Linked DNA regions of Homo sapiens: all the other regions are linked to region 2. The links come from fine-mapping of genetic effects on gene expression. A gene starts in region 2. Each other region holds a variant in brackets. All regions are shown on one strand. Distances are from middle to middle.

Region 1 (10,342 bases), 110 kb before region 2:
TGAAACCACAAGATTCCCAACTGTTACAGTCTCCATTTCTTCATCTGAAAATAACACCACCAACGCCACAGCTTGTGATGAGGAACTCAATGAAGCATACCACAAAAGCACTTCGCACACAGAACGCAATTTTATCCGTTGCTACAAGGGTCATTTTTTATTGGTGGCATCCTTGTTGCTGCTGCTGTTGTTCTCACACTCCTGGGTATTCAACTCTTCAGAGTGATTTTTGTGACTGTAGGATCATAAAGTATGTATCTGGTCTTCATCCCGGTTCTTGGCACAGAGCTTCAAAAACCCTTGGAACTTTCTGAGTCACAGGAATGCTTTTGTTAGGAGTGTTAGGAATGTCGGGGTGACTTGTGGGGGGGGGGGTGCCTAGATAACATGAGGGTGGGGGGCGGTCACCAGAAAGAACAACCCTGTGATCAGAGGGTTGGGGCTTTTAGGACCTCCAGGGAGATGAGGGGGCTGGAAATGGCAGTGTTGAATCACATGGTCAATGATTTCAATCAATCACGCCTAAGGAATGAGACTCCAATTAAAACTCTGGATACTGGGCCGGGTGCAGTGCCTCACGCCTGTAATCCTAGCACTTTGGGAGGCTGAGGCAGGTGAATCACGAAGTCAGGAGTTTGAGACCAGCCTGGCCAACATGGTGAAACCCTGTCTCTACTAAAAATACAAAAATTAGCCGTGCGTGATGGTGCATGCCTGTAGTCCCAGCTACTCGGGGGGCTGAGGCAGGAGAATTGTTTGAACCTGGGATGTGGAGGTTGCAGTGAGCTGAGATTGAGCCACTGCACTCCAGCCTGGGTGACAGAGTGAGACTCCGTCTCAAAACAAACAAACAAACAAACAAAAACTCTGGACGCTGAAGCTCAGTAGTACTTCCCAGCTGGTGGACACACCAGTATGTCAAGAGGGTGATACATGCTGTTGCCACGAGGAGGCAATATGGAAATTCTGCATCTAGAACTCTCCCAGATCTTGCCGTATGTGTATCCTTTATAATAAAACTGTAATTGTATAGCAGGGTTTTTAAATTTGAGACAAGATCTTGCTCTGCCACCCGGGCTGGGGTGCACTGGCACAATCTTAGCTCACTGCAGCCTCGAACTCCTGGGCTCAAGCGATCCTCCTGCTTAAGCCCCTCAAGTACCTGGGACTACAGGCATGCACCCCCTCACCTGGCTAATGTTTTTAAATTTTTGTAGAGATGGGATCTCACTATGTTGTCCAGGCTGGTCTCGAACCTCTGGGCTCAAGTGAGCCTCCCACCATGGCCTCCCAAAGTGCTGGGATTACAGGCATGAGCCACCACACCTGGCCAGGTTTATTTTCATTCTGTGAGTTCCTTCTAGTAAATTATGAAACCCAAACAGTTTGTGGGAATCCCCCAATTTAGAGCCAGTTAGTCAGAAGTGTGGGTGGCTGGGGGATCCCCAAGATGCTGCCAGTGTCTGAAGCAAGGGAAATCTCATGGAGGGCTGAGCCTTAAACTTGTGGCGTCTGATGCTAACTTTGGAGGAGGATGGTGTCAGAACGGTGTTGCAAGTACACCCAGGTAGTGGCAGAACAGCTGAGGCAGAAACAAAATACTGACCAAATGTTTGACTTCTTTTATTGCCTCTATTCTTATTATGTGGCAGGCAATGCTCTAAGCCTGGAGTTGGCAAACAGTGGGCTGGGAGCCAAATCCAGTAGGCCACCTGTTTTTGCAAATAATATCCTATTGGAATATGGCCACATTTATTGGTTAGTACATCGTCTAACCCTGCTTTCACGCTGCAAAGGCAGAGTTAAGTAGCTCCAACAGAGACCATATGGCCCTGAGAGCTGAAAATATTTACTATCTGGCCCTTGGCCAACCCCCGTTCTCAGCTGCCGGTATACATGAGTGAACAAAGCAGATAATATGCTTTCCCAGTGGGAAATTATAAATGACCATGAGTTCTTTGCAGCCTCTCCCACCAAGAAGTGGAGTCTATGTTCCCACCTGTTGAATCTGGGCTTGGCCATATGGCTTGCTTTGGCCAATGGAATATTTGCAAACGTGATACAAGCTGAGGCTTGAAAAGCACTTGAACATTGAGGTCTGCCCTTCCTGGCTGCTGGGGTAAGAGACTTATGGAGAGAGACCCCCACTGACCATCAAAGACACAAGAGGCTCCCCTAAACCATCAGCCGTAGCTAAACAGGCCCAGGCCAGACAAACCTTCAGTCAACACATGAAATCATCAGAGCTCCTAAAGGAGTGTTTTAAGCCACTAAGCACTGAGGTGGTTTTGTTACGCAACAAGAGCTAGCTGATACACTCACAAAGCTTATCATCTGGTTGGGGAGAGTGAATAAATTGACAACAAAGGCTAGGTACAGTGGCTCAGGCCCTGTAATCTCAGCACTTTGGGAAGCCAAGGTGGGAGGATCACTTAAACCCAGGAGTTCAAGACGAGCCTGGGGAATATAGCAAGACCCCCAACACTACAGAATTTTTTTTTAGCCAGGTGTGGTGGTGTGTGCCTATATAGTCCCAGCTACTCAGGAGGCTGTGGCAGGAGGATCTCTTGAGCCCAGGGGGTTGAGACCACAGTGAGCCATGTGGGTGCCACTGCACTCTAGCCTGGGTGACAGACCAAGACCTTGTCTCAAAAAAAAAAAAAAAAGACAAAAATATCAGCTAGTGACAAATCGAAGAGTTAAAACTAAATGATGTGACAGAGAGTGCACGGATGATTGACTCAGACGGGAAGGATTTGCCAAGGAGGTGACTTTTAAGCTGCCATCTAGATGACGAGGGGAAAAAGTGGATCATTCTCAAATGCAGGGACAAGCATTATAGGAAGAGGGAACAGCTAATTGAAAGGCACAGAGGAAAGCGGATGTAGCAAGTTGCAGGAAAAGCTCCTGCGGTAACGACCACCACGGCCAGGGGGCACCGGAATGAAATGAGAATGAGAACTGGCCGAGCCCTCCCGATGAGGAGTTTGGATTCTGTCCATTGGTCTTGGGAAGCCACCGGAGGGTTTTAGGGAAGGACATGGCATATGATCAGATGACCACTTTTATTTTTTCTTTTGAGACAGAGTCTCACTCTGTCACCGAGACTGCAGTGCAGTGGCACACTCTCGGCTCACTGCGACCTCCACCTCCCGGGTTCAAGCAATTCTGCTGTCTCAGCCTCCCGAGTAGCTGGGATTACAGGCGCCCACTGTAATCCCACGCCTGGCTAATTTTTGTATTTTTAGTAGAGATGGGGTTTCACCATGTTGGTCAGGCTGGTCTCGAACTCCTGACCTCAGGTGATCCACCCACCTCGGCCTCCCAAAGTGCTGGGGTTATAGGCGTGAGCCACCGCGCCTGGCCCAGGTGGCCACTTTTTACCAGTGTCACTAGAATGGAAGCAGGAGCAAAGAGATTGTTCAAGGGGACTGGGTCAGACCAGACATGATGGTGAAATAGATGGAGGTGTAGACAAATTTGAGACCTCAGCTTAATAGGAAGAAGTGAGAGAGGCCAAGAAGAATCAAGGATTTTAGGTAATTCTCCCCTTCCCAGTGGATACCCCATACGCATTGAAAATTTATTCATCACAAATATCTGGTCCTTCTCATCTCAGGAAGCAGCACTGTGCTATTACATCCCAGCAGGTACTTTGGAACGACAGTAGATGGTGAGACCTTTTTTTTTTTTTTTTTGGAGATGCAGTTTCACTCTTGTCACACTTGCCTGGGGGCTAACGTGCAATGGCGTGATCTCAGCTCACTGCAACCTCTGCCTCCTGGGTTCAAGCAATTCTCATGCCTCAGCCTCCCGAGTAGCTGGGATAACAGGTATGCATCACCATGCCCAGCTAATTTTTTTTTTGTTTTTGTATTTTTAGTAAAGACGGGGTTTCACCGTGGTGGCCAGGCTGACCTTGAACTCCTGCCCTCAGATGATCCGTCCACTTCGGCCTCCCAAAGTGCTGGGATTACAGGCATAAGCCACTGTGCCTGGCCAAGGCCTTTTAACATGGGTTCCCAGAACTCTGCTCTGAAAACATCAAGAACTCCTTCCCAGATAAGCCACCAGAATGGAAGAAAACATCTGGCCCTATTTGATATCAAACCACATTAGAAAATGCCACAGTACGATTAAGTCTTTCATAAGATAAAAAGAAAAGCTTCAGGCCAGGTGCGGTGGCTCATGCCTGTAATCCCAGCACTTTGGGAGGCCGAGGTGGGTGGATCACTTGAGGTCAGGAGTTCAAGACCAGCCTGGCCAACATGATGAAACCCGGTCTCTACTAAAAATACAAGAAAAATTTAGCTGGGTATGGTGACAGATGTCTGTAATCCCAGCTACTTAGAGGCTAAGGCAGGAGAATCACTTGAACCCGGGAGGCTGAGTTGCAGTGAGCCAAGATCGCACCATTGCACTTCAGTCTGGGCAACAAGAATGAAACTCCATCTCAAAAAAACAAAAGCACAAACAAAAAAAAATTGGCCAGGCTTGCTGCCTCACACCTGTAATCCCAGCTACTTGGGAGGCTGAGGCAGGAGAATGGCTTGAACCTGGAAGGCAGAGGTTGCAGTGAGCTGAGATCATGCCACTGCACTCCAGCCTGGGTGACAGAGTGAGGCTCTGTCTCAAAATAAATAAATTAATTAATTAAAAGCTTCAGAAATAAAAATATTAATTTTTTTAAACCTACGCAATAAAATACGGTGACAATGCACCCCCCTCTCCTTTGTTTTCTTCCGTTCAGGAAAGGTCCCAGATACCAAGGATGTGCGGTCAATTTCTCAGGGTTTCTGTTTTAGCATCTCCCGCATCATCAGTGAGAAAATCAAAGGAGGTTGCTATATTTCTCAGGCCATTGTTAAGGTGAGGGAAAAATGCCTTTTATTTAAGGCCAATGTCTTTTAAACAAACATCTTGCCAGAAGATATTAACCCATTTTTTTTATTTCAATTGTGATTTTAAAAAGAAAGAAATGAATCAAAAGGAATATGGTCATTTCCTCAATCTTGGGAATACACTGGCCAAAAAAAAAAAAAAAAACCTAAAACAAAAGTCTGTCTGGTATGAAAAGGTGATTTATAGACCCTTTTGGTCAATAAAGCCAAAAGGTTTTTTTGGTAGGTTTTTATCAACAACGAGCAAAACAAAACATATTGTACTTGCAGGTTTCACAAACACTCAAAGAAAGAGTCATAAGAACTGAAATTACAGCTTGTTTTCCTTCCCGCCCTCTCCACCCAGGGAAATACAATTTCCCACCCCAACACTCTCGCTTGGCTAATTCTCAAGTCTGAAGAGGAAGATACTTTACGTAAGCAGGTCAGCTCAAGGCCTCTTGATGTGTGTCTGTTTCTGATTTGTTTTTGTGTTGTTTTGTGGTGTGTGTGTGTGTGTGTGTGTGTGTGTGTGTGTGTTTTAAAACAAAACATAAAACCTCAATACAAAAACCAGGAAACAGATTTTTGCAACTCAGTTACGGCCCCAAAATAGCTCATGGAAGAAGCTCACAGTACGAACAGAAAGTCTGCGATGTGCGTAGGAAATCTGACTCTGTCGAAGAGAGAAAACCCTGCTATTTCTCACCCAAACGGCAGGAAATGGTTTGATTATACTGTCCTTCAGAGAACAGCAAAGCCCTGAGAATAATGCAGAAG[C/T]GAGTCTCTTCCTCCTGGAGACAGTATGTTCTGGGCTAATCTTGGCACACCACCAGGCTACAGGTCAGGGAAGACACGAAAGACCTTGGTATATCCTTTATGTGACAATGATGAAGCTACATCAGTGAGGACAGGCCACGTGGAGGATTTTAGGGAAAACCAAGGACTCTGTCCTTATTATATTTTCTTGTTCTGAAGCCAACCACAGAAAGCTTAGAACTGAGGTCCACAATGCCAGACTGGGTGCGGTGGCTCACACCTGCAATCACAGCACTTTGAGAGGCCAAGGCAGGTGGACCACCTGAGGTTGGGAGTTCGAGACCAGCCTGACCAACATGGCGAAACCCTGTCTCTATTAAAAATACAAAAATTAGCCGGGCATGGTGGCAGGCACCTGCAGTCCCAGCTGCTTGGGAGGCTGAGGCAGGAAAATCGCTTGAACCCAGGAGGCAGAGGTTGCAGTGAGCCAGGTTCGTGCCACTGCACTCCAGCTTGGGAGTCTTGCGGCAAGACTCCATCTCAAAAAAAAAAAAAAAGAATGGTGGGCACAATGCCAGAAGTATATACTATCTGGTCCTTTAGAGAAAAAGGTAGTCAACTCCCACTCCCAAGCCCAGGACCAAAACAGGGTGCAAAAGTAGCATCTGAGAGCAGAGACCTCACTCATAGCCAATTAACCCTGGGTTTGCACACAGTTTTAACAAGCGGCATCGTCACAACCAACCCCACGTTCCTTCTCCTCTCGGCTGCCCCCCAGACCCACATCCAGAACTCACTTGCTGGAATTCATCGTGTACCCGGAGGGACACTCAGGGATGCACTTGTTGTTGTGAATGACGTACTGGTGGCAGCCCTGCCTCCGCGAGTTCTTGCATTTGTGGTGCAGGTCCTGGCAGAAGCTGAAGTTCACACAGCGCCAGTCCTGGAAGTGGTAGTACGGGGGCGGGCAGGTCTCCACACACCTGCCGTCCAGGTAGAAGTTGCGGCAGGCCACGCACTTGGTGGGGTCGTCGGGCTGAGAACAGTTGCCCAGGCACTCGCTGTGGCAACAGAGGCCTTCGGCGGTGCAGCCGTGTGACTTACAGATGGTCGGGCAAACTGGAGAGAGAGAGAGAGAGAGAGGGAAATAAATAAATAAATAAATAAATAAATAAATAAATAAATAAATGGCTTTGTCCAATTCCTGTCTGCATATGCAGCAATTCTGGATCAGACAGTGAAAGCCAACCAAACACTAACAGTAAAAGCGGCACGTCTACATCATTACCCACATGTCAGACACATCTATTAACTGGTTTAAGCCTCCAAACCATTGGTGAGCTTGTAAATGTTTAACAGCTGCCTGAGGGAGGGGCCCAGGGAGGCCCAGATTTATATAGCATTTGCCGATTTCCATGGTGTAAATATTCCTACCAGTGGTGGATTTCAGGCCACCAACATGAAGTTACTAAACATAAGCTGACAAAAGATACACAGTAGCATTCCTCTAAGTAGTATTTATAAGTATACACAAAATGTATCTACTATTGACACAAAAGTAGTAAATAACCTCAACAGCACAAATAATAGGAAAACATCGTATGATATTAGGAGGTGGTGAGTTTTGAGTATTTGTTACTTTTAAAAAGCTTTGTTAATTTAAAAACTTTTGTTTTTAATGTAATTTGTTTAACTGTAGGTTTATGTAATTTTTATGAATATCTATGTTTAACAAATGGCTCACAAATTGCCTGAAAATTTCACCACTGGCTCCAGCAAGCCAACTCCAGCATGCTGCTGCACCCCACATGTGAAGTAGATACACTGTTAGCTCCTTTATTTTTTTGTTTTACAAATGGGGAAACTGAGGTACAGGGAGGTTAAGTAACTTGCCCCCAAACCACTGATTGCTTCAACAGACATTTGCTTGCACTAATCTAGATACTGTGGCCACTGTGGGGAAAAAAGTGGCTGCAGATCCTGCCTTTGGGAGCACAAGGTCTAATGGAGGAGACATGTTAGTTACTTAAACATGCAAATGTGGCTCGGTGTGGTGGCTCACGCCTGTAATCCTAGCAATTTGGGAGGTCGAGGCGGGTGGATCACCTGAGGTCAGGAGTTTGAGACCAGCCTGGTCAACATGGTGAAACCCTGTCTCTACTAAAAATACAAAAATTAGCTAGGTGTGCTGGTGCATGCCTGTAATCCCAGCTGCTCAGGAGGCTGAGGCACGAGAATCACTTGAATCTGGGAGGTGGAGGCTGCAGTGAGCCATGATCGTGCCACTATACTCCAGCCTGGGCAACAAGTGCAAAATTCTGTCAAAAAAAAAAAAAAAAAAGAGAGAGAGAGACAAAGAGAGAGAGAAAAGGAAGGAAGGAAGGAAAAAAAAAAGGCTGGTTGTGGTGGCTCATGCCTGTAATCCTAGCACTTTGGGAGGCCAAGGTGGGCGGATCACCTGAGGTCAGGAGTTTCAGACCAGCCTGGCCAACATGGTGAAACCCCATCTCTACTGATGATACAAACAATTAGCCGGGTGTGGTGGTGGGCGTCTGTAATCCCAGCTACTCAGGAGGCTGAGGCAGGAGAATCGCTTGAACCTGGGAGGGGAGGTTGCAGGGAGCCGAGATCATGCCACTGCACTCCAGCCTTGGTGACAGAGGGAGACTCTGTCTCAAAACAAAAAATGAAACAAAACAAAAAATAAGAAAGAAAGTTGGGGAGTGTTCTTCACCCCAAATCCCCAGACTGTGATTCTCAGCACAGTGGATCCCACCGGCCAAACTCAGGGAACAGAAGTGGCCCCAGAAGCTACATCCATATATGAACAGCACCATCTGGTCGAAATTTCTGCGATGACGGAAATGTTCTCTATCTGGGCCATCCAACATAGTAGCCACTTCTCCCCTGTGGCTTCTGAATGTGCTTAGTGCAACTAGGAAATCCAATTTTTTTTTTAATTGTGGTAAAATACACATAGCATAAAATTCACCATTGTAATCATGTTTAAATGTATAGTTCAGTGGTATTAAATACTTTTATGTGGCTATGCAACCATCACCACCACCCATCTCCAGAACTTTCTCACCTTAACCAAACTGAAACTCTGCCCCCATGAAACAGTCACACTCATCCTCCTCCCCAACTCCTGGCACCTGCCATTTTACTTTCTTTTTCTTTTCTTTTTTTTTATTTTTATTTTTTGAGATGGAGTCTTGCTTTGTTGCCCAGGCTGGGGTGCAGTGGCGCGATCTCAGCTCACTGTAACCTCTGCCTCCCGGGTTCAAGTGATTCTCCTGCCTCAGCCTCCAGAGTAGCTGGGATTACAGACGCCCACCACCACACCCAGCTAATTTTTGTATTTTTAGTAGAGATGGGGTTTCACCATGTTGGCCGGGCTGGTCTTGAACTCCTAACCTCGTGATCCTCCTGCCTCAGCCTCCCAAAGTGCAGGGATTACAGGTGTGAGCCACTGCGCCCGACATCCCATTTTACTTTCTGTCTCTGTGACTCTGATGACTCTAGGAACCTCATATAAGTGGAATAATATAGGATTTATTCTTTTTTAAAAAATTTATTTTGAGATGGAGTCTCACTCTGTCACTCAGGCTGGAGTGCAGTGACTCGATCTCGGCTCACTGCAACCTCCACCTCCTGGGTTCAAGGAATTCTCCTGCCTCAGCCTCGAGTAGCTGGGATTACAGGTGCCCACCACCACACCCCGCTAATTTTTTTGTATTTTTAGTAGAGACGGGGTTTCACCGTGTTGGCCAGGCTGGTCTCGAACTCCTGACCTCAAGTGATCCACTCACCCTGGCCCCCCAAAGTACTGGAATTACAGGTGTGAGCCACTGTGCCCAGCCTAGCTGCAGTATTTTACATTCCCACCAACAGTGTACCAGGGCTCCAATTTTTACCAAGGAACAAAACTTTTAACTGCATTTCATTTTAATTTCAGTTTAAAATTTTTAAAAAGTTTTACATTGATACAGAATATTTTACACATTTATGGGGTACTTGTGATATTTTGTCATATGGATAAAATGTGTAACGATTTCTTTTTTGGGTGTGTGATGGGGTCTGGCTCTGTCACTTAGGTTCTGGGGTACAGTGACACAGTGACAGTTCACTGCAGCCTCAATCTCCTGGGCTCAGGTGATCCTCCCACCTCGGCCTCTTGGGTAGCTGGAATAATGGACATGCGCCACCACGCCCAGCTAAGTGTTTAATTTTTTGTAGAAATGGGGTCTCACTATGTTGCCCAGGCTGGTCTCGAACTCCTGGCTCAAGCGATCCTCCCACCTCAGCCTCCCAAAGTGCTGAGATTACAAGTATGAGCCACTGTGCCTGACACAATTCCAATGTTTACTAGCCACAGATGACTACCGTCTCCCAGACGAGACAGTTCAGGCATACAGAATAAAAGCCAACTCCCTACAGGCCTTGGGGGGTCTAATCCCTGCCAGTCTTGCTAAATTCTTCTCCCAGGCTGGCCTCCTTTCTGCACCTCCCACCCACACACACCCAGGCTCAGCCCTACCTTAGGACCTTGCACAAGCTGTTCTGGGTGGAGCACCCTGGTCCCTTGTCCCCTTGTGACTTGCTCCTTTGCATCCTTCAGGTCCTTACACAGATCTTCCCTGACTTCCCCAGCAGAAGTCGCCCTTCCTGCTCCATTCATAAGCTAACACATTATCTCATTA
Region 2 (10,342 bases):
CCTCATGCCTATAATCCCAGCACTTGGGAGGCCCAGGAGGGAAGACTGCTTGAACTAGGAGTTCAAGACCAGCCTAGGCAACATAGCAAGACCCTGTTTCTACAAAAAAAAAAAAAAAGTTTTAATTAGCCAGGCATGGTGGTGACTGTCTGTGAGCCCAGGTACCCAGGAGGCGGAGGCAAGCAGGTTGCTTGAGGCCAGGAATTCAAGACCAGCATGGGCAACATAGCTAGACTCTGTCTCTACAAATAAATTTTAAAAATTAGCTAGTCATGGTGGTGCCTGCCTGTGATCCTAGTTTCTCAGAAGGCCAAGGCAGGAGGCTCACTTGAGGCCAGGAAATCAAGACCAGCCTGGGCAACATAGTGAGACTCTGTCTCTACAAACAAATTTTTCAATTAGCTGGGCATGGTGGCACCTGCCTGTGATTCCAGCTACTTGGGGAACCTAGGTGGGAGGACTGCTCCAGGCCATGACTTGGAGGCTGCAGTAAGCTAGGACTAAACCTCTGCACTCCAGCCTGGGTGACAGAGCAAAATCCTGTCTCTAAAAAGAAATAAAAATTGGAAAAAAAAAAAAAAAAAAAAAGGGCCGGACACGGTGGCTCATGCCCGTAATCCCAGCACTCTGGGAGGCTGAGGTAGGTGGATCTCTTGAGGTCAGGAGTTTGGGACCAGCCTGGCCAATGGGGTGAAACTCTGTCTCTACTAAAAGTACAAAAACTAGCCAGGCGGGGTGGCACATGCCTGTAATTCCAGCTACTGGAGAGGCTGAGGCAGGACCATTGCTTGAACCCAGGAGACGGAGGTTGTAGTGAGCCAAGATCATGCCATTGCACACCAGCCCGGGTGAAGAAGTGAAAAAAAAAAAAAAAAAAAAGTGAGCTGAGAGAAGATTAAAGGAAACACTGACCCTCTGGGAAGAGAGAGCCAACATCTTAGCCCAGGTAGAAGGAGAAGAGAACAGTAAAACAGAAGAACTTAGGCACAGGTGAGACGGGAGACACAGCCTTCCAGGAGGGGGGACTGGCAATGTCAAACCCAGAGGGGTCAAGTGAGGTGAGGCTGCAGGAGACGCAACTGGGAGATGAGAGATTAACTTCGAGAGCCATCGGTAAAGCAGCGGAGATGCAAGCCAGATGCTGGGGGCAGAACAGTGAGAAAAGAGTGAGATGGAAAGGGCAGGGAGGACTGGCCTGGGGAAGCTGGACAGGGTGGAGGCTGGAGGTCAGTGGTAGGTAATGGGGATTGGGGGGTACTGGGTGTTTAGAGGCTGAAAAAGCACGTGGGTAAATGAAGATTCTTTTTTCTTTTCTTTTTTTTTTTTTTTTTTGAGACAGAGTCTCTCTCTGTTGCCCAGGCTAGAATGCAATGGTGTGATCTCGGCTCACTGCAAGCTCTGCCTCCCAGGTTCAAGCGATTCTCCTGCCTCAGCCTCCCAAGTAGCTAGGATTACAAGGACCCGCCACCACACCTGGCTAATTTTTGCATTTTTAGTAGAGATGGGGTTTCACCATGTTGGCCAGGGTGGTCTCAAACTCCTGACCTCAGGGGATCCGCCCACCTCAGCCTCCCAAGGTGTTGGGATTACAGGCGTGAGCCACTGCACCCGGCCGAGGATTATTGAACAAAGAGAGGAGAAAGAGCAAGAGCCCAGATGGGTAAATGTCTCAGACAGGGAAAAGGTTAACTCCTGCAGAGACGTGCCTGGCAATGTCTGGAGACATTAGTGGTTGTCATGCCTGGGGGGAAGGGGATCCTCCCAGGACCACATGGGTGGAGACCATGGTTCCAGCTCAACACTCTACATACAGGACAGCCCCCACCACCAGGAATGATCCAGCCCCAAATGTCAGCAGTGCCAAGATTGAGAGTTCTGCTTAAACCAAAGAGGAATGGAAGTCAAGGGTAGAGTGGGGTGAGGTGGGGAGCCCTGGGGACTCAGCCCACACCCTGTGGTCTCTATGCATGAATGGGGAAGGGCAAGAAGCAGGTCTCCAGGAGAGAAGCAAAGAATAAGAATAACTGCAGAGGCCAGACACCGTGGCTCATGCCTGTGATCCCAGCACTTCGGGAGGCCAAGGCAGGCAGATCGCTTGAGGCCAGGAGTTTGAGACCAGCCTGGACAAAATAGCAAGACTTCAGCTCTACACATTAAAGTAAAAATTAGCCAGGCAGGGTGGCGTGTGCCTGTGGTCCCAGCTACTACGGAGGCTAAAATAGGAGGATGGCTTGCGTCCAGGAGGTCGAGGCTGCAGTGAGCCATCATTGCCCAACTGCACTCCAGCCTAAGCAACAGAGCAAGACCTCATCTCAAAAAATAATAGATAGCTAGAGAGATAGATACAAAAATCACACTGATTTTCCTCCACCCTTCATCCCAATCAAAATGCCATATTGGGCCCGGAGTGATGGCTCACACCTATAATCCCAGGTCTTTGGAAGGCCGAGGCAGGCAGATCACTTGAGGTCAGAAGTTTGAGACCAGCCTAACCAATATGGCGAAATCCCATCTCTACTAAAAATACAAAAATTAGCCAAGGGTGGTGATACACGACTGTAATCCCAGCTACTCAGGAGGCTGAGGCAGGAGATGCACTTGAACCTGAAAGGCGGAGGTCGCAAAGATCGTGTCACTGCACTCCAGCCCGGGTGACAGAGTGACACCCTGTCTCAAAAAAAAAAAAGAAAAAAAAAAAGGCCAGGTACGGTGGCTCACTCCTGTAATCCCAACACTTTGGGAGGCCGAGGCGGGTGGATCACAAGATCAGGAGGTCGAGACCATCCTGGCTAACACAGCAAAGCCCTGTCTCTACTAAAAATACAAAAAATAAGCCGGTGTTGTGGAACACGCCTGTAATCCCAGCTACTGGGGAGGCTGAGGCAGGAGAATCCCTTGAACCTGGGAGGTGGAGGTTGCAGTGAGCTGAGATCGTGCCACTGCACTCCAGCCTGGGTGACAGAGCAAGACTCCGTCTCAAAAAAAAAAAAGCCATATTGGTTGACATTAGAGATTAATGATCTGAAAAGTTCTTTGCCCCTCCCCAAGCCTTCAAGAGGCATCACAGCCCATTTATTTGACAGGATTTTGTTCACCATCACCCCAATCGTGGGGGGTACGGAGGCTCGGACTCAAAAGAACAAAGATTTGTTAAGAAACCATTGCTCTGCAGCCACACTAGCTAGATTGCAATCCCAGCCCTGCTGCCTGCTGGCCTCAAGCGAAGTTTTCTCACTTGTGAAAAGGGAAGATTAAACCGCACCTCGTGGGGTTTTGCCGTGAGGATTAACTGAGATTATATATGCAAAGCGCATAGAACAGCACCTGCTGAGAGCTTGCTCTTCTAATTCTTAGGAAGGTATTATGCAGAGAATAAGGAACTCCTTAAGATGATAAAGGAGCCCAGTACACCCAGGAACTCCACCACTTGTGCCCCACTGCAGAACAAATATTTACTGAACACCTACTATGTGCCAGGCATCGTTCTGGGCTCTAGAAATGCAACGGTGAACAACAACAAACCATAAACCCCTGCCCATATGGAAGCCATAAATGTGCAAAGAAATGGTAAATCCATTTACTGACCCTGAAAGCCCAGGCACAGATCCACAATTAATTACCAAAGCTACAAGGAACAGAAGAACAGGGAACCACACACACGCACACATAGAATCTGGCATAGTTCGAAACCACTCATCTTGGATTTTCTTTTTATTTATTTATTTATTTTTGAGACAGAGTCTCGCTCTGTCGCCCAGTGGCACGATCTTGGCTCACTGCAAGCTCCGCCTCCCGGGTTTACGCCATTCTCCTGCCTCAGCCTCCGGAATAGCTGGGACTACAGGCGCCCGCCACCACGCCCGGCTAATTTTTTCTATTTTTCAGTAGAGACAGGGTTTTACCGTGTTAGCCAGGATGGTCGTGATCTCCTGAACTGGTGATCCACCCGCCTCGGCCTCCCAAAGTGCTGGGATTACAAGCGTGAGCCACCACGCCCCGCCTTTTTTTTTATTTTTTTGAGACAAAGTCTCGCTCTTTGGCCAGGCTGGAGTGCAGTGGTGCCATCTGAGCTCACAGCAACCTCCTCCTCCCGGGTTCAAGCAATTGTCCCGCCTCAGCCTCCCAAGTAGCTGGGACTACAGGCGAACGCCACCAAACCCAGGTAATTTTTGTATTTTGAGCAGAGAAGGGAGTTTCACCATGTTGGCCAGGATGGTCTCCATCTCCTGACCTCGTGATCCGCCCGCCTCAGCCTCCCAAAATGCTGAGATTACAGGCTTGAGCCACCGCAGCTGGCCAGATTTTCTTAACAAGAACTCCAACTAACCGCCACCCTTCATTGAGCACCTACTGTCTCCCAGGCACCTGGGGGCGGGGCTGGGGGGGGGTGGGCCCGGGGCTTTTAGACATTATGTGATTGACAGAGTCGACTCAGCAAACCCGGTTGGTCCACTCTAGCACCTGATTTTACATGCACCCGTTTCCCCATCAATACATTTAAGAGCTTCAATTCCTTCCCTCCCTGACCCCTTCCTCATCACGACTGATTTCCTTTTATGGAGAAATCTGAAACAGTAACCCAACAGATATTTTTAAAGCAGGGCCTCAGACCCCACAGTGGGAAACCCAGGCTATATTCCTTAAATGATTGCGCCATCTTCATCTTACAACCCCAAAGGTGCCTATTGTCAAGCCCAAGGAAGATGCTGCCCACACGTGGGAGAGGGGCCCATGGGGTCAGGGGGAACGAAAGGCTCACTCAAGGTCAAAGGCTCCTTCATGAAGCGCAGGGCTGAGGGGAGAGGAGGGGTCAAGGAGACAGCAGACAAGGGACAGTAGTCCAGATTCTTGGGCAGAACGGGACACACAGAGGCTCAAGTCCTGGCTCTGGCACTGACTTTAGGGCAAGGGAGTTATGCGTCCTACATGAGCCTCAGTTTACTCCTCTGTGAAATGGGTGCATAACTGTATCTGCCTCCGGGGGCCACTGTGACAGTCCAGAGAGATAAGATAGACTAGGCTGTGGCGTGCGGTGATACCAATTACAATAAATAGGGTAAAAAACCGCCACTACTTCTGCTACAATTGCTGCTGTTGCTAAGGCTTTAGAATTTGCCTCCGGACATCTGGAAACAGAACCCAAAAGGGTAAACATGGACCTAGAGTCCGGGGTGGCCACGGGCCTAGATCCAAGGTAGTTGGGTAGAGGGGGGCTCTGCAGTCCCTGACCCCAGGCAGCGTCACCCACCGGTGAGGCACTCAGGGCGCTTGGCTCTACCTACACCATATGCGCTCGGGGGACTTGGCTGTTCGGGGCTGTCCAGACCCAGTGACCCCACTTCCCGGCCGCGACCCAAAGATGACGCGTGTCGTGTCTCCGGAGCGACTTGGGCTCGGAGGGGCCGGGGCACGGGTCGGAGGCGCGCTCCAGAGAGGAGCCCGCGGCGGGGCGGGCACCGGGGCAAGGTTCCTCGGGCTCAGGTCGGGCACGCAGGGCGCGGAGGCGCGAGCCCGGGCGGGCAAAGGCCAAGGTCAGAGGCTTCCCGCTCCCCCTACGCGATGCAGGAGCTACCGTCCTGGCCACCGCCCCCCGCCCCTGGGGAGGGTTCTCAGTCCACAAGCGGGGGCTCGATTTTGGCTTGGGTGGGGTCCTCTCCCCATCGCGGCGCTCCCCGCCCACGCCCGCGCCCCCAGACTCACCCTCTCCGGGGTACAGGTGGCCCGCGGCGCCCAGTAGCAGCGCGGCCACCGCCACCAGCAGCGGCGCGGCCGCCGCCCCCCGCCGGCCCCCGGTGGCCATGGCTGCGGGAGCGCGGGGTCTCCTCGGATCAGAGCGCGCGGCGCTGGCCCGCGGGGGTCATGCTCCGAGGCGGCCACCCAAGAGGCGCTGGGGGCCGCGCGTCCTTCTCTTCCACGCCCGCGACCCGCGGGCCGCAGCCCCCCTGCCGGGGAGGGCCCAGAGGCAGCCCCGGGAAGGGCGCGCGCGGCTTCGCCAGCTACAAATACTGAGCGGAGGCCCTTGCGGTGGTGGCCCCGACCCCCCGGCCGCTGCGGCCCGGGCCCCGTCCCAGGATCTCGGGGCCCGGAGCTCCGCGCTGCGCCCGGGACTGTCTCTCGGCTCTCGGCCCCGCGCGCTCTGGGTCGCGATCTGCGGGCTCCGGGACAGAGGGACGCGCGGACCGACGGACTAGCTGACTGGCGGGCGGGCACCTGGGCTGGCGGGTGGCGGGCGGGCGGCGGGAGAGAGGGCTGCTCGGGCCCGTAAACAACGCGGCCCGTCAGCTGGGCCCCGTGCGGGCCGCGGGAAAAGGCGGCGCGGATCTGGCCTAGGAAGGGACTCTGCGCCCGGGAGAGGCCCAGGAGAGGGAGGGAAAGCTTGCAGGGGAGGGAGGTGCCGCCCGGCCCCGCCCCGCCCCGCCCGCCTCCCCGCCTCCCTGTGCCGGGCCCCGCGCGGGAGGCCCTGGGCGCGCCGGGACCGAGGGCGCGCCCCAGATCCGCGCGCCCTACAGCCCCGAGTCTCCTCCAGTTTCAGACCCCCGGAGGCGCCCCACAGGCCCGACGCAGCGGCACAGATCCTTTCTCTACCATTTTGCTATTTTGTTCATAGTGGGCTTTGGAGGATTCCTGTTGATTTTTTAAAAAATACTGCATTAAAATGTTTATTTTGGTGACTCGAGGTGGTTTTGGTTTCTTTCTTTTTTTTTTTTTTTCACTCCCTTAAATTTTGCACCCCAGGCGAGTAGTGTCTCACTCGCCTTTCCTCAGTCCGGGCCTGGCCAGCGACACTCGTCCCAGAGCGCGTGGGCGCCCCCAGATGTCCCGCCCGCGAGTGCGCCCCGGCCCAGGGGCGAGACCCAAGCCAGGCCCCTGGGGACAGCCACGTGCCCGCGTGCCCAGTGCGCTCCCTGTGTTCAAGTTGGAGAAATGACACCTGGAAAAATGTGCAGACGCTTCTGAAAGGGCAAAGACGACGCCAAAGAAGACGCCGGAGACCTCGAATAGGGCGCAGGTGGACATCTCTGATTTTCAGCAGACCAGCCTGTATGTGTCTGAAGTCTAGCAACGACATTCACCAACAAGGCGGGACAGCGGTTCCACCTACCTTACTGCAGGAGAGGAAGGGGCTTTCAGTATAGGAAAGCCAGAACTCAATGGGAGGAGGGTTCCTCCACCCCTCACTCCTGTGTGGTCTTGGACCAGGGACTTTTCTGTCTCTGGGCCAGTTTCACTTGTGTAATGGGTTTAATAATACCTGCATGCCAGTTCTGGGGAGGTACCCGGGAAAGAAAACTTAAGAAAGCGCCCAGCACAACCCTAGACCCAAGGCATTCATTCTTCTTTCATTCAATAAACAGTTTGCTAGGAGCTGGACCCACTGTTCATGCAACAGGCCAAACCTATTCCTGCCTCTGGGCCTTTGCCCCAGCATTTCCCTTGCCCGTAACACTCCAGGATGGCTTCATCTCTGAAGTGCCATCCCTAACCATATTTTTGCAAATCCTCCCCCCAGTTCCGTTTCCTTCTCTCTCTCTCTCTCTCTGTTTTTTTTTTTTTTTTTTTTTTTTTTTTTTTTTTTTTTTTTTTAGATGGAGTTTTTCTCTGTTGCCCAGGCTGGAGTGCAATGGCCAGATCTCAGTTCACTGCAACATCACCTGCCTGGGTTCAAGTGATTCTCCTGCCTCAACCTCCCAAGTAACTTGGATTACAGGCATGCGCCAGCACACCCAGCTAATTTTCTGTATTTTTAGTAGAGACAGGATTTCACCATGTTGGCCTGGCCGGTCTCAAACTCCTGACCTCAGGTGATCCACCGGCCTTGGCCTCCCAAAGTGCTGGGATTACAGGCCTGAGCCACTGCGCCTGGCCCCTTCTCTCTCATTTTCATAGCATGTTTACCCCACTACCTGCAATTGTTTGTTTTTTTTTTTTCTTTTCTTTCTTTTTTTTTCCTTTTGACAGAATCTTGCTGTCACCCAGGCAGGAATGCAGTGGTGCAATCCTAGCTTACTGCAGCCTTGAACTCCTGGCCTCAAGCAATCCTCCTGCCTTGGCCTCCCAAGGTGCTAGGATTACAGGCATGCGCCACCATGATTGGCCTTGAAATTCTTATTCGTTTTCTGTGTCTTCTCCCCTTCCCGTGAAGGCGGAAATCTTTTCGGTCTTGTTTCACTGCTTAAACCCAGTGCCTGACAAATCTGTTGCTTAATAAATATTTGTTGAGTGGGAGAATCAACAAGCAATAAGTAATAGGGGATTTTTCAGTGAGCAAAATAAACATGACCCATTTCCTTATGGAGTTCACAACTGAGCCAGGGAGAGAGCCCTTAAAATAATTGAGTGTGTAATGAGCTGAGGGAAATGGGAGGTGCATAGGGAGGGGTTTGCTGAGGACATGGGGTTTTTTGTTTGTTTGTTTTTTGATGGATCTTACTCTGTTGCCCAGGCTGGAGTGCAGTGGCACGATCTTGGCTCACTGCAACCTCCGCCTCCCAGGTTCAAGCAATTCTCCTGCCTCAGCCTCCAGAGTAGCTGGGATTACAGGTGCATGCCACCACGCCTGCCTAATTTTTGTATTTTTAGTAGAGGCAGGGTTTCACCATATTGGACAGGCTGGTCTTGAACTCCTGACCTCAAGAGATCTGCCTGTCTCGGTCTCCCTAATTGCTGGGATTACAGACGCGTGAGCCACTGCACCTGACTGAGGATGTGATTTTGAGCTTAAGTCTGAAAATGAAGAGGAGCCATCCTAGGGAAGCCATAGGGATGTGTTTCAGGTGGGGGAAGGCATGAGCAAAGGCCCAGAGGAGAGTGGGCAAGGCATTCTTGCAACTGAACCAGGCATTCACTGTAGCTGCAGAAAAGAAAGAGGAGAAAGTGAAGCCATGGGTGAGAACTGCAGTGGGCCCTTGAACATGAGTTTGAACCGTGCACATCTTTTTTTTTTTTTTTTTTGAGGCAGAGTCTCGCTCTGTCACCCTGGCTGGAGTGCAGTGGAGCAATCTCAGCTCACTGCAATCTCCACCTCCAGGGTTCAAGCTATTCTCCTGCCTCAGCTTCCCAAGTATCTGGGACTACAGGCACACGCCACCTCACCCGGTTAATTTTTGTATTTTTAGTACAGACGGGATTTTACCATGTTGGCCAGGCTGGTATCGAACTCCTGACCTCAGCTGATCTGATCAGCCTCCCAAAGTGAGGTCATCTTTAAACAGAATGTTTTTCAATAAATATATTGGAAACATTTTTAGAGATTTGCAATAGTTTGAAAAGACTTGCAGATGAACTTGGTAGCCAAGAAATATTAAAAAAAAATTAGGTATGTCATGAATGCATAAAATATATGTAGATACTAGTCTGTTTTATTATTTTTGTTATTATTTTCTTTTAGAGACAGGGTCTTGCTCTGTTGCCCAGGCTGGAGAGCAGTGGCCCAATCATGGCTCACTGTAACCTCCAACTCCTGGGTTCAAGCGATCTTCCTGGCAAGCACCAACACGCCCGGCTAATTTTTTTACTTTTTATAGAGACGAGGTCTCACCATGTTGCCCAGGCTGGTCTCTAACTCCTGAACTCAAGTGATCCTCCTGCCTCTACCTCCCACAGTGCCGAGATTACAGGTATAAGCCACCATGTCCAGCCCTATTTTATAATTTGCTAACATAAAATATACACAAATCTGTTACAAAAAGTTAAAATGTATTAAAACGTACACACACACTTACAAACCATACATGGTGTTATTCCAAGTCAAGAGAAATGTAAATAAATGTAAAGATGCAGCATTCAATCATAACTGCATAAAATTAACTATAGAATATATTGTGTTATTGTAACAATTTCATAGCCACCTCCTGTTGCTACTGGAGTGAGTGCAAGTGTTGCAAGTATCCGCTTTAAATGCCATGTTACATTAATTATCTCCCTGTGGGCAGTTCACCTCTCCAGGAATTTGTGCCCCGGTAAAAAGGGATCTCTTGGCGGTTCCCGCGTATTTTTCACTGTGTTTAGTGCAATACCGCAAACATTGAATAACATCCTGAGACCCATGTAAAGTGCCACTAGTGATGCTGGAAATGCTCCCGAGAAGCAGAGAAAAGTCAGGACAGGACAAGAAAAAGTTGAATTGCTTGCTACGTAACATAAATGGAGCTCTACAGCTGCGGTTGTCTGCTTCAGACAGACAATTCATCTTGTAAACAAATTTATGGCATTGATAAATATTGTAGCGTTCTGTAACTGTAAATGTATTTTCTCTTCCTTGTGATTTTCTTTTTCTTTTTCTTTTTTTCTTCTTTTTGGAGACAGGGTTTCACTCTGCTGCCCAGACTGGAGTGCAGTGGCA
Region 3 (10,342 bases), 180 kb before region 2:
TGAGAACATTAGACCATGGACTCATAGTCTAAACCACCCACCAACTATGTCAGCCCTATTAAAATTATGGCTTCCCTCTTTTGTGAAGTACTTTGAAGATGTTTTCTCTCACTTGTGTACTATCCTGATGACCACTGTCTCATCTGTGGTCATGCAGAACACACATGGAGCAGAGCCAAGGCCAGAATTTGCATTTCCTGGCTCCCAAGTCTGACTGTCTCAGCAACCCACATCCCCATTCTAACCCAGAGCCCAGCCAGAGTTCCTCCTCTGGTTGTGAGGCTGTGGTCTATGAAACCAAAGCCTGTGCCTTGCTTTCTCAGCCTGTCAGGGTCTTACCACTGGATAGGAGCCTTGGATGAAAGGACAGGCAGACAGATAAATTGATGGACAGACAAGAAGAGGGATAGATGATGGATGGATGGATGAATGGATGGATGGATGGATAGGTGGATGGATAAATGGATGGATGGGTGGATGAATGGACAGGTAGGTGGATAGATGATGAATGGATAGACAAGATGGATATACAGACAAATGGGTGGGTGGATGGATAGAAAGGAAGGAAAGAAGGACAGATAGATGGATGGGTGGATGAAGAGAAGGCAATAGACAAACATATAGGAAATTACAAATACAGATAGATAAAAAAAAAAAAGGCCCCAAGAGAAGTAGAGGTAGAAACAGAATGGTAGAAAAGGGGGAGGAGGTCAGAGATATGAGTGGGAGGAGGAAGGTGAAATGAGAGAGAAAGAAAAGCAAAGCCCAAATTATAGTGTGACAGGAAGATTGGGTAGCAGAAATACACAAGCAAAAAAAGAGAAACAAGTGAGACCAAAACTGGAGAAATAACTCAGAGAGAGTGACCAAGAAGGAGAGAAACTAAGGAACACACACAAGGGAAGCAAAGGGAGAGAAGAAAAATAAGACAAGAGTGGGAGGAGGAGAGGGGGAAATAGAGAAAAAAATGGGAAGACAGAAAAGTCCTACATAGAAGGAAAGACAGAGGGAAAGATGGGGTAAGGAGATACAGAAGTAATGTATAAAAGAAATAAAGTAGGTCAGGCGCACCTGTGGTCAGGAGTTCGAGACCAGCCTGGCCAACATGGTGAAACTCCGTCTCTACTAAAAATATAAACAATTAGCTGGGCATAGTGGCAGGTGCCTGTAATCCCAGCTACTCAGAAGGCCGAGGCAGGAGAATCACTTGAACCCTGGAGGGGGAGGTTGCAGTAAGCTGAGATTGTGCCATTGCACTCCAGCCTGAGCAACAAGAGTGAAACTCTGTCTCAAAAAAAAAAAAAAAAAAAAGAAAGAAAGAAAAAGAAAGAAAGAAAGAAAGTGAGGGAACCATGGTGGGTGCAAGAGGGGAGTAGATGGTGAGGATGGAGAGAGAAGGGAAAAAAAGAGGAGAAGCACAAATGAAGAGAGGCAGAAACATGGCTGACCACAAAGGGAAGCACACAGAAGGAGAAAGATTAAGAGAATAGGAGAAAAGAGCAGAAGGCAGATACAGAAAAAGATGGAGGAGAGGATGAAGCAGACTTGAAATAAATAAAACAGAGATAAAAGAGTGGCAAGAAGTAGAAAGTAGGACAGAAACAAGGAGGGAGCAGGGTGATGAAGAAACAATCAAGCAAACAAAAAAAAATCAAAACACAAGGAGAAACAGTGAGATAAATACAGAGAGAGGAAGGGAATTAAGGGGAGAAGTGAAAAGGGGAAGCCAGGGTGGAGGCAGCAAAGAAGAGGCCCACACTGAACAAGATACAGGAAAGAGAGCAGGGAAGAGGGAAAGAGAAGAAAGAGAAGTATTTCTTTCTTCTAGAAGGGTGGAAGAAGGAGGCAGAGATCCAAGGGTAGTAGCCAGCACTGGAAATGATCCTGAGGCATCAGATAATGATGAAGATAATGATGGTGATGATAAGAATGGCCATGATGGCGATGATAGTGATGGTAATGAGGGTGATGGTGATGAGATGGTGATGATGATGATGGTGATGAAGATGGTAAGGATGGTGATGATGATGATGGTGATGGTGATAGGATGGTGATGATGGTGATGGAGATGGTGATGATGGAGATAATGATGATGGTATAGTGATGGTGATGGTGATGGTGATGATGATGGTGATGATGGTGATGATTATGATGGTGATGATGGTGATGATGGTGATGGTAATGATGATGGTGAAGATGGTATGGTGATGGTGATAATGGTGGTGATGATGATGATGGTGATGATGGTGGCGATGGTGATGATGATGGTGATGAAGATGGTGATGATATAATGATGATGAGGGTGATGGTGACGATGGTAATGGTGATGAGGATGGTGATGATACTGATGATAATGATGAAGGTATGGTGATGGTGATGATGGTGATAGTGGTGATGATGTTAATGATGATGGTGATGATGACAGTGATGGAGATGATGATGACGCTATAATGATGATGAGGGTGATGATGGTAATGAAGATGGTGATGATGGTGATGATAGTGATGATGATGATGGCAGTGCTGATGATGGTGATGATGACAGTGATGGAGATGGTGATGATGATATAATGATAAGGGTGATGATGGCGATGGTGATGAGGATGGTGACGGTGATGATAGTGATGATGATGATGATGGTATGGTGACGATGGTGATGACCGTGATAATGATGGTGATGATGATGATGACAGTGATGGATATGGTGATGATAATATAATGATGATGAGGGTGATGGTGATGATGGTGAAGGTGATGAGGATGGTGATGATGGTGATGATGGTGATGATACTGATGATGATGGTATGGTGATGATGGTGATGATACTGACGATGATGGTGATGACGGTGATAATGATGATGGTGATGCTGATGACAGTGATGGAGATGGTAATGATGATATAATGATGAGGGTGATGGTGATCACGATCATGATGGTGATGATGATGATGATGGTGATAATTATGATGGTGATGATGTTAATGCTGGTGGAAGCAACAGCTGACACATACTAAGTGCTTACTGTGTGCCAGGCAACTTCTTTTAACTGAGGTATAATTTACATACAATAAAAGGGATAGGTTTTAAGCGTACAGCTCAGTGAACTGATAAATGCATATACCCATGTATTTGCTACCTCAGTCAAGGTACAGAACATGTCCATCACCCCAGAAAGTTCCCATGTACCCCTTTCACAACCAAGATCCCGTTACCCCCACCATAGGAAACCCATGATCTGGTTTCTGTCACCATCAATTACTTTAGCCATGCCCTGTGTAAGTGCTTTACACACACCACAAATTTATTTTATATCCCGCAACACCCGTAAGGAGCAGGGACCACTGTCATCCCCATACACAGGGAGATTCGTACAACTAATCATAGGAGAGCCATGGTTCAAAATGAGGCAGAGGGCTTCCGGGAGCTGACTTGAGCCACTAAGACAAATATAATATTTTGGGGGTCAGGTGAAGTAACCTTTCCCTCTCACCCTCTTAGAGTCTCTGACTGGGACTGACATAAGACAGATTAACAAGATAAATATACACATTTCATTTAGTTGAGGATTTTTGTTTAGTTTTGGGGACAGTGTCTCACTTTGTCGCCCAGGCTGGAGGACAGTGGCACAATCATAGCTCACTGCAGCCTGCAATTCCTGGGCTCAAGGAGTCCTCCCACTTCAGTCCTCTGAGCAGCTGGGACTACAGGTGTGCACCACTGTGCCTGGCTAATTTGTAAAATTTTTCGTAGAGATAGGGTCTCTCTATGTTGCCCAGGCTGGTCGTGAACTCCTGGCCTCAAGTGATCCTCCTGCCCTGACCTCCCAAAGTGGTAGAATTACAGGCCTGGGTCACTATGCCTGGTCTTTATTTAGTAATTTTTACATGTGCAGGGGAGATTTTGTAAGAAAAACGAAGACCTAAAGAAGCAGTTGGAGCTGAATGCTTATGTACTAGGTTGGACAAAATATAGTATGGTAGTTTCATCTCCTGCTTTCAGGAAGAAAAAGGAAAGTCAGAGTGTCCTTCTTGTTTGCTATTTTTCAAGCACCTTTAACTCAAAATAACCAATGTGCCAAAGTGGCATACTTTGTTGTTGTGAAGTGTTTTTTTTTTTTTTAGACAGAGTCTCGCTCTGTCATCCAGGCTTGAGTGCAGTGGCGTGATCTCGGCTCACTGCAACCTCCGCCTCCCGGGTTCAAGTGATTCTCCTGCCTCCTCCTGAGTTCAAGCGATTCTCCTGCCTCAGCCTCCCAAGTAGCTGGGATTACAGGTGTGCACCACCACACCCAGCTAATATTTGTATTTTTATTAGAGACAGGGTTTCACCATGTTGGCCTGGCTGGTCTCGAACTCCTGACCGCAGGTGATCCGCCTGCCTTGGCCTCCCAAAGTGCTGGGATTACAGGTGTGAGCCACTGTGCCCGGCCAAAAGTGGCATACTTTGGAGTGGCATATTTGGATCCCTTACACAGGCAAAGGCAGAATGGAAGCAAAGTTCCCGTGTTCTTGTCCTGAGTCAGCTGAGTCCAGTGGGGGAAGGGGAAGTTGTTAAAATGCAAGTTCCCAGGCCCTGCCCCATAGATGCTCATGGAGGAGGCCTGGGTGTGGCTTAGACAGACACACCTTTGTTTTTAATAAGTGGGATTCTGATAAGCACCCAAGGCCCAGGAGGAAGCTCCAGGAACCCAGTGCAGACACTCCCCACTCCAGGCCAGGGCGCCAGCTACCCTGCTAAAAGGTGCTGTGATCACTTGGCCAGGGCTTTCAAGGAATCCAAGTGGCTCCTCTGCACAGAGACCACACGGCCGTCCACCCTCCCTGAGACTGATGCCTTCCTTGATGAGCTTTCCTTGGAAGAAAAACATTTTCCATTTTCCAAGAGACTCACATTGAATTTCACAAACCCAGGGAAGCAGAATTTACGCTGCCACCACAGCCGATAAGCAGTAGCATCAATTTCTTGGAGAACAGGGAACTTGGAGGGACTTGGGGATATGGGAATGTCCATCCTGAAGGGAGCATGAGAGATCAATGTTACCTCATTTAATCTTTGCCATGGTCATATAAGGTAAGGTCTATCGTCAATAATAGGAGGGTAGGGCCTCTGTGGGCCATGATCAGCCTGCTAGCTGGATGGCAGAGAACTGGGAGCAGAAAGGAGGAGGGGAGAGAGCTGGAATGACCATTGGGATTCCAGAGCCCAGGGTTAGGACCACCGCCCTTTGTAAAACCAGCCACTTAGCCAGTTAGTTGCTTTGTGTGTCTTCAGGCTAATTTAACAACCCCATACTGCGGAACTCTGGGCCAGAGTTTGGAGGAATGTGAAGAATTCAGACGCAACTTTCATGCAGCCTCTGGAAAGCTCCCAGGATAATGGGGAAACACACACATTCAATAACCTCAACTTTCGATGGCCCAGCTCAGAACACTGCCAGCTGGAGGTAGGTGGTCTGGAGAAATCCAGAGACCGCCTGGAGGGGTTGGGGATTGAGTTCCATTGCCTTTGGGAGGGAGAGAGATTCCACAGCCCACATACTTTGCACTTTAGCTAAGGTCAACCCCTCCACCTGTGCCGTAGATCTCATCGTCACTTGTTTGCTTAAGGACATAGAGCTAGTGATCCCCTGCCTTCATCTCTTTTCCCTCTGATGACTGGATTATCCCTGTCATCATCCATACTGCTATTTCTCCCATCTCAAAAACAAGGAATAATAATAATAATAGGATGGTAAAGTGAGAACTTTACCTTTATATTATTATTAGTAGTAGTAGTAGTAGTATTTTTTTTTTTATTTTTGAGACAGAGTCTCACTCTGTTGCCCAGGCTGGAGTACAGTGGCATGATCTCAGATCACTGCAACCTCTGCCTCCCAGGTTCAAGCGATTCTCCTGCCTCAGCCTCCCGAGTAGCTGGGACTACAGGCGCCCGCCACCACGCCCAGCTAATTTTTGTGTTTTTAGTAGAGACGGGGTTTCACCATGTTGGCCAGGTGATCTCCTGGCCAAGGTCTCGATCTCCTGACCTTGTGATCGGCCCGCCTCAGCCTCCTAAAGTGCTAGGATTACAGGCATG[A/G]GCCACCGCGCCCGGCCCACTTTTATATTATTAAAAAAATATAATAATAATGATAGGAGGGTAAAGGAGTGGAAGATTATTGCAGGATTGGACTCTAGTTGGTTCACATCACCTTTTATCTGCATCCTTGGACAGTCCTCTCCAAAGCTGACTCTGGGTTTGGCCATGGGACTTACTTTGGGCAATGGGACAGTAGCAAATACCACACGAGCAGAAGTTTGGAAAATATTTACATTTGGGGGCTTTTTGTTCCTTCCGACTGGGTATCCCTGCAACCACCACCATATGAACAAGCCTGAGTGAACCTCCTAGAAGACAAGCAATCCTGGCTCTCCCAGCAGAGGCCTCAGCACAGGAGTGAGGCTGTTCCCGGAAGAACCACCCAACCAACACATAGAACTGTAAGAAACAGGCCAGGCACCGTGGCTCATGCCTGCAATCCCAGCACTTTGGGAGGCCGAGGCGGGCAGATCGCTTGAGAACAGTAGTTCGAGACCAGCCTGGGCAACATGGCGAAAACCCGTCTCTACTAAAAATACAAAAATAATCATCATAATGATAATAATAAGGCTGGGTGTGGTGGCTCACACCTGTAATCTCAGCACTTTGGGAGGCTGAGGCGGGCGGATCACCTGAGGTCAGGAGTTTGAGACGAGTCTGGCCAACATGATGAAACTAAAAATACAAAATTAGCTGGGAATGGTGGTACACGCCCGTAATCCCAGCTACTTGGGAGGCTGAGGCAGGAGAATTGCTTGAACCCGGAGACAGCGTTGCAGTGAGCTGAGATTGCACCACTGTCCTCCAGCCTGGGTGACAGAGTGAGACTCCATTTCAAAAAACAAACTAACAAAAACAAAAACAAACAAACAAAAAAAGAAAATAAATAAACAGTTGCTGTTTTAAGCCACTCAAGAAAGACTATTCAAAAGGCTTTCAATCCCATGGTCTAACCCATGGTCACTCACCTGTCCACCCAACCTGGGACAGGTCTCCACTCCCAGGATGACATTGAAAATACTTAACATATGAGTTTCCCGCATGTCAGAATAGAGCAAGATCTTGAAGGTTCATTGGTATTCTCGGAGTGAACCCTTTAGTGGTTGGACCATGGGGAGGTCTGGGAGCCCTTGGGGAAGCGCTTACTTACCAAATGGTATGGAAATAGTGCAATATTTAAACCACCAGTTTGGCCATACAAGTATGTCCCTACGAGTCATCAACTCTGCTGGTAGCAACTATTTAACCTCCCTTTTCATGTGTGGAAGAATCTAGGTGTTTTTCTCCTCTAAAAAAAGGCACCTACATATTCCAAGAGGTTTTCCTTAACACAGCCCAACTCATAGCCACATCCCCCGACCACACGACAGGTCCTTACCGGGACACCACACAAAAACAAGCGTATTCTCAGATAATTTAATCAGAATTTTAATATAAACAGGTCATTATCCCATATTTTACATGCAGAACGATTTCAATATTCCAAAAAAAAAGGCGTCTTCTGTACATGGTGCTACTTGGCTCTTGTAGGAAAACATTGAAAAAATAATAATTGAGCTGTTGGGGGGTTTTGTGTTTCTGAGTTGTTTTCTGCAAAAGCTGCAGCACATTTGATCCTGCGTTGCCAACGCACAGGGCCGAGGCCACCCAGGCACACAAAGGGACGAGGAGAAGCAACTTTCAGGCAAAGTGTAAAGACTAAACAAGCTGTTCCTGAATATGTGCATGGGTGCACACTTATTTTGAGGCTCTTCCTTCCTTCTCCAATGGGACCAAGAGCCCCAGATTTGTGATCTGGTTTTTAACAAGGATTTTCAGTGGCCCGCACCCAGATAGAAATTTGGCTGGTGGCTGGTTCTGGACCTTGACTAGTATCAGAAGGTAAAAGTAAGCTCAAAAAGCCATTGTGTCCCCTCCCCTCACTCCCATTTCTCGGGGACCCTTAAGGAAATATTCACCTTCCATTGCACTCCCTGAAAGTCCACCATGTTCTTTTGTATGTTCTAGGAAAAAAAAAAGTGCTGACCTGTTCTTTTCATTCCCAACCTCACCTCGCATATAAATTAATATTCTGAAGAACATGCTGGAAGATTTTCTGAAGTGACACCCCTCTCTGTGTACCATGTATATAAAATCGGCATTCCCTGTTCCCCATCCTCAACAAAACCATTGTTTCTGAAGAGCCTAAGGTGTCAAGGACTCACCAGGTGACATTCAAAGGACATTTAACCCTAAACTTCCACCCACTGTGAAGGAGAGAAATGATTAGCACTGGGACTACAGCACATCCATTTACCGGATGACCAGCGCAAGTCATATGCTGATGACGCTCCTGCTCTTTCACACGTGTTACAGCAGACTACAAATAAACACCTCCCAATCCAATAAGCACATTTCTTGGTGGACTACCTGCCCTGCTAGGATACAGTGAAAGATCTGTCTGTCAGTTGGTAACATAGTCCCCAGGGTCACAGGATGACCTATGCAGACCCTTGTGTCAGTTCCCACAGCTTCTCTCAATCATCCTCAGCCTATATCCAGACAAGCAGCAGTGCTTCTCTTTCTCACTGCTTCCAATGATGAAACAGCACCTAGGACAGCTCCTAAAACCTGAACATTTTCTGATGCGTATTTGACATCACTGATGCAGAGAGAAAGTGATGTGCTTGGTATTCTCCTCCTGGAAGAAGGAACTCCTGTGTGGCTTTCACTACATTAATGAAAAGGGTTTTAATCATAGTGAGACATCTTTAAGAACAAGCAACAAAAAGTGTTATCCTAAGCTGGTTTTGTTGCTTTTTGTTGTTGTTGTTGCAACTTAACACTACAAACTCCCAGGACAACCGTGTCTTTCTAGGACCAAAGTTTTATTGTTACAAAGTCAACATTTCCTAATGTCAAAGGAGGTTTGCAACCCAATAGCTGTTTGCTCTTTTCACTGTGGCAGTAGAGTCAAATAAATGAAACTGGTGAATCCCATTTGCAAGGGGCAGGCCCAGCACACCCTACCTTTCTCCAGGGCAGGTGGAGAAAGGTGAGTCTGCAAGGGCAGTGCCTAAAAGTACAAGAGCAGCAAGATTTGGGCCCCACTGGTCCTGCCTAGACTCTCACATGGGTTATCAAAGCTGCACAAGGTCCAATAATATCAGCTTGAGGTCAGTCAAACCCCAACACAGAGGTCCAAGGTGTTGTTGCAAAAAAAAAAAAAAAAAAAAAAAAAGCGTTCAGCACATTAATGGGTTTTGGATTGGAATTTCCCTCACATGCTCCCATCCCACTTGGAGAATTTAAAAAGACATTGCATTAGGTGTTTGTGTGTAAGGTGCATCACCAGCCTGAAAGGAGTGGGCATAAACCATCAGGGAGCCCAGGGCACCTTTGTGCTCACTTCAGGGGGATTCCATGGAACAGGTGGGAATGCTTGCTCTGAATCAAAGCCCGTCTTTGCCCCGGCAGCCATCTCTCACCAAAGGAAGGTACACCTTGCTGGGTTACCCCATATATCAGATACATCATGACAGCCTGGAACTTAGTTTATGTTTGGGGAACATAGTGACAATAGATGGAGGATTTTTTTTTAAAGGAAGATTAAATTCAGAGAAGAATATTACCAGCCAGGAAGAAAAGGATCTATGCTCGCATAAAGGCCATACCTTCTCCATCCCAACTCCCTCCCTCAAAATTCTTACTGGTCCCTGGCATTCGAATCAGCTGATACACACGTTCCCTGATTCAGACCGGTTCCAGGTAGAATTCTGAAATCTCAAAGATGTCCATGATTGAATCACATCTTAACAATACACTGAGGTAGACTGTGCTGAAAAAAGAAAATCACTATCCCCCATTCACCTGTTTATTTTTCTTTGATAAAAATTTACATGCGCTCCATTTTTTATGAGAGTGATTTTCAGAGTGATTTTATATATTAAAATAAATACTTTTTCCCCTAATATAAGAAAAACCTTTCTGAATTAGAAAAATGTGAAAATTGCAGCTAGTGTAGTATACAACCACTACAAATTTACTAAGAAGAGAACAAAATACCTAGTTCTACGTGTTTTTTTTTTAAATTTAGGTACAGACCCTCATATTTACAAAATAAATTTGGCAAAAATAATTTCTGTACTCTTGCTTCTTGTACCCAATCACTGAGGCTCCTCAGCAATATTTTTACATGCTGTATTTTCCCGAATCATATAAATAAGATAGCAATAGACAATTGGGATTCATGTCTACCTGTGTTCTTAATCAAGAATTGAGAGGGCTTGG

What was found. PIP is the estimated chance that this variant, and not a neighbour inherited with it, causes the effect.
Region 1: its variant is fine-mapped to the expression of INSR in blood mononuclear cells (TOPMed, PIP 0.98). The same link has a PIP of 0.9 or more in whole blood.
Region 3: its variant is fine-mapped to the expression of INSR in lung (GTEx, PIP above 0.99).

Annotation. Positions count from the first base shown.
Region 1 is chr19:7,177,880-7,188,221 of GRCh38, forward strand. INSR (insulin receptor) reads right to left here. Exons shown (of 22, transcript NM_000208.4): 3 at 6,437-6,758. Among named protein-coding and RNA genes, the nearest start is that of INSR, 110 kb to the right of the region's middle. RefSeq lists an enhancer at 1,316-1,415. The variant C/T (reference allele first, on the strand shown) is at 5,661.
Region 2 is chr19:7,288,092-7,298,433 of GRCh38, forward strand. INSR (insulin receptor) reads right to left here and starts at 6,323. Exons shown (of 22, transcript NM_000208.4): 1 at 5,701-6,323. The coding sequence starts at 5,800. RefSeq lists enhancers at 361-862, 4,765-5,523 and silencers at 5,505-5,564, 5,615-5,754, 5,895-6,174, 6,195-6,584, 6,725-6,904.
Region 3 is chr19:7,104,780-7,115,121 of GRCh38, forward strand. INSR (insulin receptor) reads right to left here. Exons shown (of 22, transcript NM_000208.4): 22 at 7,486-10,342. Among named protein-coding and RNA genes, the nearest start is that of ZNF557, 40 kb to the left of the region's middle. RefSeq lists an enhancer at 4,957-5,476 and a silencer at 8,586-8,786. The variant A/G (reference allele first, on the strand shown) is at 6,074.